Linked DNA regions of Homo sapiens. The protein of the gene in region 1 purifies or fractionates together with the protein of each later gene. This does not show direct contact. Each region holds a gene or a part of one and is shown on either strand. Other genes may lie near its edges.

Region 1 (4,241 bases):
AGGCACAGAAAGACAAATACCACATGTTCTCATTTATATGTGGAGCTAAAAAAGTGGGTCTCATGGAGGTAGAGAGTTCATTGGTAATTACCAGAAGGTGGAAAGGGTAAGTAGGGAAGGGGGGGTGAAAATGGTTGGTTAAAATTTAAAAAAGAAAAAGAAAAAAGAAATAAAATTTGTAATACTCCAAAAACTTTGATAGAAAAGAGAAAAACATCTAAAGGGCCAATAAAGCACGTTGATCAAAAAAAAAAGAAGAAGAAGAAGGCCGGGCGCGGTAGCTCACGCCTGTAATCCCAGCACTTTGGGAGGCTGGGGTGGGCGGACCACGAGGTCAAGAGATTGAGACCATCCTGGCCAACGTGGTGAAACCCCGCCTCTACTAAAAATGCAAAAATTAGCTGGGAATGGTGGCACATGCCTATAGTCCCAGCTACTCAGGAGGCTGAGGCAGGAGAATCGCTTGAACCCAGGAGGTGGAGGTTGCAGTGGGCTGAGATCGCACCACTGCACTCCAGCCTGATGACAGAGTGAGACTCTGTCTCAAAAAAAAAAAAAAGAAAAGAAAAGGGTTGGTTAATGGGCACAAAAACACCATTAGATAGAATGAGTAAGTCCAAAGTGCGATAGCACAGTAGGGTGACTATGGTTAACAAGAATGTATACTGCAGTTCAAAATAGCTAGAAATGAAGAATGGGAATGTTCCCAACATAAGGAAGGAATAAATGTTCAAGGTGATGGATATCTCAATTACCCTGATTTGATCATCGCACATTGTATACGTGTATCAAAATATCACATGAACCCCCCAAATGTGTACAACTATATTATGTCCCAATTAAAAGAATCCTGACATTCTATGTTTTTATTTCATGCCCCAGAATCCCTGGAACCATTTCAGTTATCCCCATCCCCTCACCCTTGCCTTTTCACAGTGGCTACTGCCAACTGTTCAAATTGTTAACAGAGAAATCAGCAGGTGTAAAGAAGAGAGGTAAGGGTCTTTGGGACCTGTTTGAGGCTTTCTCTCTGATAAAAAAGGAACTGGAAAAGAAAATTGAGGCATAAAAGATAGAGGGAGTTGCCTGAAGCCCTTCAAAGTTGTAAATATTTACATTGAAATTTAAAACTCACAGATTTTTATTTTCCAAAGTAACTCTGGGCCCTTTTCCTACATGTCAGGAGGGCATCTGTAAACACTTGTCTTAGGTCAGAGGCCATACCCCTTTTGCTGAAAAGGCCAGTCAGTAAATGTGTAGGCTTTGCAGACCAAATACTTCTGTGGCACATATTCTTCATTGTTAAATTGTTTTAAAACTACAAAAACCATTCTTAGCTCTGGGCCATATAAAAACAGGTCTCAACATAAAAGGAAAAAAAAAAACAAAAAACAGGCCTTTGGGCAGATTGGGCTCACAGGCTGTAGTTCGCTGGTCCCTGGCTCAAGGTCCAGAGACAAAGCATGGGACAGAGTTGGGAAAATGGATTTTAACCTGGACCTGTTCCCTTAGTCAAGCCTTCACCTCTGTTTGAACTGGGACATTTCTAAGGCTCATTCAATGAGTATGTGACTGTCCCAGATTATCCAACTAAGCAAATCTCCTACTCTTGCCAAGCATGAGCCCTGTCTTCATCCGAATGCCTCTGTATCACTTCAGCCTCAGGTCTCCTATGTGTTCCCGCTGCTCCGAGCCGGGTATCACTTCCCCCCACCGTTTCTCCAGGAAATCCTCCAAGGGACAGTCGGCTCAAGGAGCCAAATGAGTGAGGGAGGACAGAGCCTGGAAGAAACAAGGCAGTCCAAAAGAAATAAACCCACCAACCTGAGACAAGTCTTTCCTCTTCTTACAGTTGATACCTCCAATGAAGACCATGTTGGGCATGACCGGCCTAGGATATTCAAGCACAAAGTCATATCTTAACAGCCAAACAGAGACCTTCTGATATAAGGTGATTATATCCACATCTCTCTTGAGGACAGCTGATGCGAGTTCTTCATACTTTGAAAACAGACAATAAAATAGATAGGGCTCCAACAAATTAACAAGGAAGTTGGCCACTCGTTGGGAAAAAGTCATGTGGTCTGAAAACTTTGTGTAGCACCTGGGAATGTAGGACACAGGGTCTGGGCTTCTGCTGAATGTATGCTCCAGGGAACACGGAAAACCCCTGAAGAGGTACACAGATGGTAGGCCCAAATACTCAGCCAGGATCACCCCACAGGGTAAGGCTGGGTCTGTGAAAAGAGCATCAAACTTGCTCTCCTTAAAGAAGTTCAGGGTGTCCCTGTCCTGCAGGAGGCTCTGGCAGTTGATGAAGTACAGGCCAATAACAATCATGTTATTCCTGTACTCTGTCTGAGGAGCAGTTAGGAATGATCGCTCAGCAAAGTGATTGTTTCCAAATGATTGGTAACGGTTCTTCAGCTCTTCTTGGTCATACGGCACTGGATAGATTTTTCTTGTGTAGTATTTGGATTCTTTCAAAAGCAAATTAACTTCAGGCACCACCACTACAATCTCATGACCCCGGTCACTGAGAACCTCAACTATATCCTTCATACTAAGCCAGTGGCTTCCGTCCTGAGGGACCACCAGCAGCTTGTCACCTACAACCATGCCCCAAAGTGCTAAGAAGAAAACCCCTGCAGAAATTCTCTGAAATGAGCGAAGGAGGCAGGCCATCCTGGAAAGAGTTAAAGTAACAACGGTAATAAAGAGTTTTCACTCTCCAAATCACAGGGCTCCTAGGTATTTTCCCTAAACTAACCACTGCTTTTCACAGGTCCTGTCTACCTCTCCCTTGCTCTGAATTTTACCCTTTGATATGTAAGAACCCAAATTAATATTTAACCATTTTAATCACATGGTTAATATGAACCAACTATGGCCGTGTCAGCTTTCACCTGAGCTTCTGGGTGTTTCTCTTCAGCTCCACAAGTCTGCTTCTCCCTCTCTGAAAAGTTATAGCAACACTTTGAAGATGACTTGGAGAGACCCCTGAGGACCCCCTGCCAATTCTCTATCCCGAACTTGCTGGATTCCTCATCATTGACGTTGTCTGTTATGTCCATGATGTGCGGGAATTTTTCTTGCACACGGACCTATTCTCTAACACCAGCTGGGTATCCTACAATTCAATTCCATTCTGAACTGAATTCTGAGTTAGCACGGACCCCACAGGTTAAGGGCTCAGTCCTACAAGACTGCCCTCACTTCAGACACCAATTGCAAGTAGTAGGTCCCCAGGTTACCCACAACTTCTGTCTGACTTGGCAAAAATCAGAGGTTCACACACCCTCTTTCTTGGAGTCAATCATTTGCTAGAATGGCTCACAGAACTGAAGAAAACAGTTTATTTACTAGGTTTGGTTTATTACAAAGGATATTGCAAACAATACGGATGAATAGCCAGAGGAAAAAGTACAAAGAACAAGATATGGGGGTATGGCCATGGAGCCCCATCTGCCATCTCTGGGTGCCCCACCCTCCACACCTTCAGCAACCTGAAAGCTCTCTGAACCCTGCCCTTCTGAGTTTTTATGTAGGCTTCCATACATAGTAGGCATGATTGATTAGATTGTTGCCCATCGGTGATCAAATCAATCTTCAATCTCTCTCTCCTTTCTTCCCTCTAATCGCAAGGGTTTTGTTCCCTGGCAACTAGCCCTCATCCTTAGAGACTTTACATCTCCTTTACATAAACTTAGGTGTGATCGAAAGGGATCTGTTTTGAATAACAAAAGATTCTTTGTTCACGTTTATCGCTCCCACCACTTATGGTTTCAGGAGCTGTGTCCAGGAAACAAAGACAAACATATATTTCTTATTATACATCACAATATAACAACATTCAAACTGTTACTTGCCTTTAGGAAATTAAGATTTGAGAAGTATAAGTCTAGCCAGTACGTGGTGAGAATCCTAGAGCAGGAGTCAGAAAGCCTGGTATCTGCTTCTGGCCCAGCCACCCATCTGCCAGGGGAGTGACTCCTCTCCTGAGCTTCAGGTTTCTCAACTGAGGCCCAGAAAGGGAGGGTCACACTGGCCCTGCCTGCTAACCACACTGCTGAGGGCGGTCCCAGAGCAAGACCTGTGTAGAAACTAGGCTGTCCCAGTGAGAGGTGGTACCTTGAATTACTAGAACAGACTTGCCCAGAGCTAGTCATGCACACCTGGCTGGCACGCGAGTTCCTGTTCCCACCCACAAGTTTGGCACCGGAGGTGTTCTGGGGCCCAGG
Region 2 (3,500 bases), on another chromosome or scaffold:
AAAATTTGTAACTTCTCTTGGAAACACACAGATATTTAATACTTCAAGAATTGGGATGAGGAATGGAAAGACTGCTGTAGGAAAAACAAAACAAAAACAGAAAAAGAAATTCATTGTGAATGTGCAAAATTTACCTGGAGCAATTCTAGTTTTCTCTACCAACCAGAAGAGTAAAAGACATCAAGGTTCTCAACTGGAAGCCATTCCTTCTATGACTTTTGCCCCTCTTTCAGGCCAGTGGCTGAGCAAGGGCAGGTCTATGCATAAGGAGCACCGCTACAGCAGTGAGATCAGCAGCCCCTTGTGCATCTTTTGAAGGATAAAAGGAACAAAATTCAATGCCCTAATCTCTTTGCCTTTATCTATTGGACTACAGTCTCCTAGAATAACCCAAATCATAATCTGAAGCTCAAAATTAATCTTGCTGTTCAAGAAATAGTAGGTAGTCAAGATAGAAATAACACAGCATATCTCTGTCACCTATCATGGAATAAAGATAAAATCAATAAGGGAAAGAAAATTGAGAAACTCACACATATGTGGAAGTTAAATAATAAACATTTAAGTAACCAATGAGTCAAAGTAGAAACCAAAAGGGCAAATAGAAACTGTTTTGAGGTGAACAAAAACTAAGATGTGATAGACCACAATCTCATGGGATTTAGCAAAGGAAGTGCTCAGAGGGAAAGTTACAGCTGTAATGTCTAAATTTAGAGGAACAAAAAAATCACAAATCAGTAATCTATGTTCATGCCACAACATAGTAAACGAAGAAGGGCAAACTAAGCCTGAAGCCAGCAGAAGAAAGAAAATGATACAGACTAAAGTACAAATTCATGAACTAGAGAATAAAAAACCCTGATGAATTAATATCATTTCTATGAAGTGTCCAGAATAGGCAAATCCATAGAAGCAGAAAGTTGATTAGTGGTTGCATATGATGACAGGGTTTGTGACAGGGGGCTGATAGCTAAAAATGTATGAGGTCTCTAGATTGACAAAAAAAGTTTTAAAGTTTAAAATGATGATGGTCACACATATCTTCAAATGTACTACAAATCACTGAACTGTATATTTTAAGTGGATGAATTACATGGTGATTTATATCTCAATAAAGCAGTTATTTTTAAGAGAGCAAGATAAATAAAAGGAAATAGTAGTCCACATACTTATTGAGAGAAAGAATGGATCCAAAAAATCAAATCTTAAAAGCTTCTTGGTGTTTTCCACAAAGGGGTCTTGTGGATTGTTGAGAGAGTCGATGTTCACTCCAAATGATGTGCTAGTGATCACATCCATGCTGTAGGCCCCAAAGACGCTGAGTGGAGAAAGATGTGGAAAATTAAAATCAGCACCTTTTTACCATCCTTCCTCTATGCATGCAACAGGAAACCCACATGTCCAGTCAAGACAGACAAACAGCCACAGACTTTCAGATCTACTAGATCACCTTCTATCACACTCCATCAGAAGGTGTTATCAGGTGCCAGTGATGCAGCTGGCCCTACGCTGGGTGTGATGGAGACACTGAACTGAATTAGACCTACCTCTGAGATCAAGGAGCCCATCATAGGAAGACAGAGACCCACTATCAGACAACTACAGTAGCATGTATTGATTGTGGATGATACAAGATGGGTAAGCACTGTGCTTCAGCAGAACAAGAGTAGAATAATTAACTCTTCCTAAGGGGCTCAAGACAGGTGATATTGCCTGACTGCAGACTCTATGCCCAGAGCCGATTCCTCTTCAGCACTTTACAAAGCAACAGTACCCTGTTCTGAGCTCCTAGAAATATCATCCTTATTCTCTATACTCCCTGCTCAAGCTTTGGAAAATTCCACTATCCCCAGCTGTGGTGAGCTGAGGTTGCCCTGACAGCAGAATTATTTTTGTAAAATATAATGACCAATAATGTCCTGGTTAAAAAAAAATCTCTCAAAATTTGATTTGGAAATTTCTATAGTGAGTGACCACATATCCCTGGTCTGCCCAGGACAAACTCAGATTACACCTGTTTTTACTGCATAAGTGTAGATAGCAAATAATAGGCTTGCCCTACCTATAGTGTTTTTACCACCCTCTCTCTTTGAGACTGGAGGAAAAAGAAATGGTAGGAATTTTAATATTTAGTATTCTACTGATATCCTCAGAAAAAAACATGAAATGATCAAAGTTATTCTAAGTTCTCCATTATAACTCTCCCAACCTACTCACTGCCAACCAACAGATACCAAGTGCCTTCCCCTTCCACCATCCCATACACTCCATGCTTAAAACTTTGGTACAATCACACTTTTTCCCCCTAAAGGATATATTTAGTCTTCTAGAATATCCAAGGTGACAATTTAATGGATATGTAAACCCTGGCCCCTGTGCACAGGGGAGAAGATCCTTTTCCTCCAGCTGCCCCACCTCCTCATCGGAGCTGCCCCATCTTGGGAGACCCATTGAAGTTGCATTACCACAGCCCTCCTTTTGTCTGGTCACTGGAATAACCCAACAGCAGGAATATCAGCTCCATGGCAGGCAGCTGGAGGGGTTCATGACAGCTCAGAACCCCATGGCTGCGCTTCTACTTACTCTTTCAAGGTGACAGGCTTGCCTGTCTCTGCTTCCCGCCTCAGATTTCTCACCAACACATCTCCATACTGGGCAATGATAGGGACCATCTAAGCACAAAACACAACACCACCCATAGTTAAATGTGCAGACTCTAGTCCCAGAAGGACATGGCTTTCCCCAGCATGGAGCAGTAAGTGACATTTTATAATGAATTTTGTGATGTGTTTTCTGTACATAAAGATAAAAGACCATTTTTAGGCAGCTCAAATTCAGTGGACTACCCCTTGGAAAGGGACTGTGATCTTATTTTATACCTGTCCCCACCAGATTCATTCTTTAAGTTTCTTATTAAAACTCATGTTATTTTCATACCTCCTTGAGTTTTCCACTGGTGAAGGTTGGAGACAGCAATGATCGTAATCTCTTCCATTCTTCATCCTCAGCTATAGAGATGGCACTTTTCATAAATCCCACTGGACCAAAAGGCTAGAGTTCAAAGCAGAAACATTTTGTCCTACATCAGTTGTGGAGGTCTCCATGGTTGTAGAAAATGTGTTAAACAGGAACACTTATTCAACAACTATTTAGTGACTGTCTACTGGGTGATGGGCCCTATGCTAGATGCTCAATAGAGATTTATCCCAGATGCCCAGTGTCCTGGGATGTATTTGTGTGGGGCGGGGCGGGGGGGTGGCGGCAGTGTTCAGGAGACCCTGATGTCGTCTCCAGCCTCTATATCCCAGTCTTCTTTTACATGCAAATTATCCACGTGGTAGAGAATGTGTTCTTCCAGTACAATAAACAGAATCAAGACCTAGCACTTCTGCAGTGTAGAGACGGAGTGGAGACAGACAAGCAGGTGACTTTGGTGGATTGTATGTTGCCTCAGACAAGCTGTCTTTATGTTCTCCTGCAGCATGGGCAACGTGAAAAAG

Evidence for each region. The genes of interacting proteins can lie anywhere in the genome.
Region 2: the proteins of UGT1A6 (region 1) and CYP3A4 purify together in Homo sapiens (affinity purification with western blotting; one study listed by BioGRID). This does not show direct contact.

What each region holds. Positions count from the first base shown.
Region 1 is NC_000002.12:233,691,449-233,695,689, reverse strand, and holds the start of UGT1A6 (UDP-glucuronosyltransferase 1A6 isoform 1 precursor), read right to left. Parts: upstream 2,801-4,241; 5' UTR 2,686-2,800; coding exon 1,825-2,685; intron 1-1,824.
Region 2 is NC_000007.14:99,767,185-99,770,684, forward strand, and holds part of CYP3A4 (cytochrome P450 3A4), read right to left. Parts: intron 3,052-3,500; coding exon 2,938-3,051; intron 2,673-2,937; coding exon 2,584-2,672; intron 1,319-2,583; coding exon 1,170-1,318; intron 75-1,169; coding exon 1-74.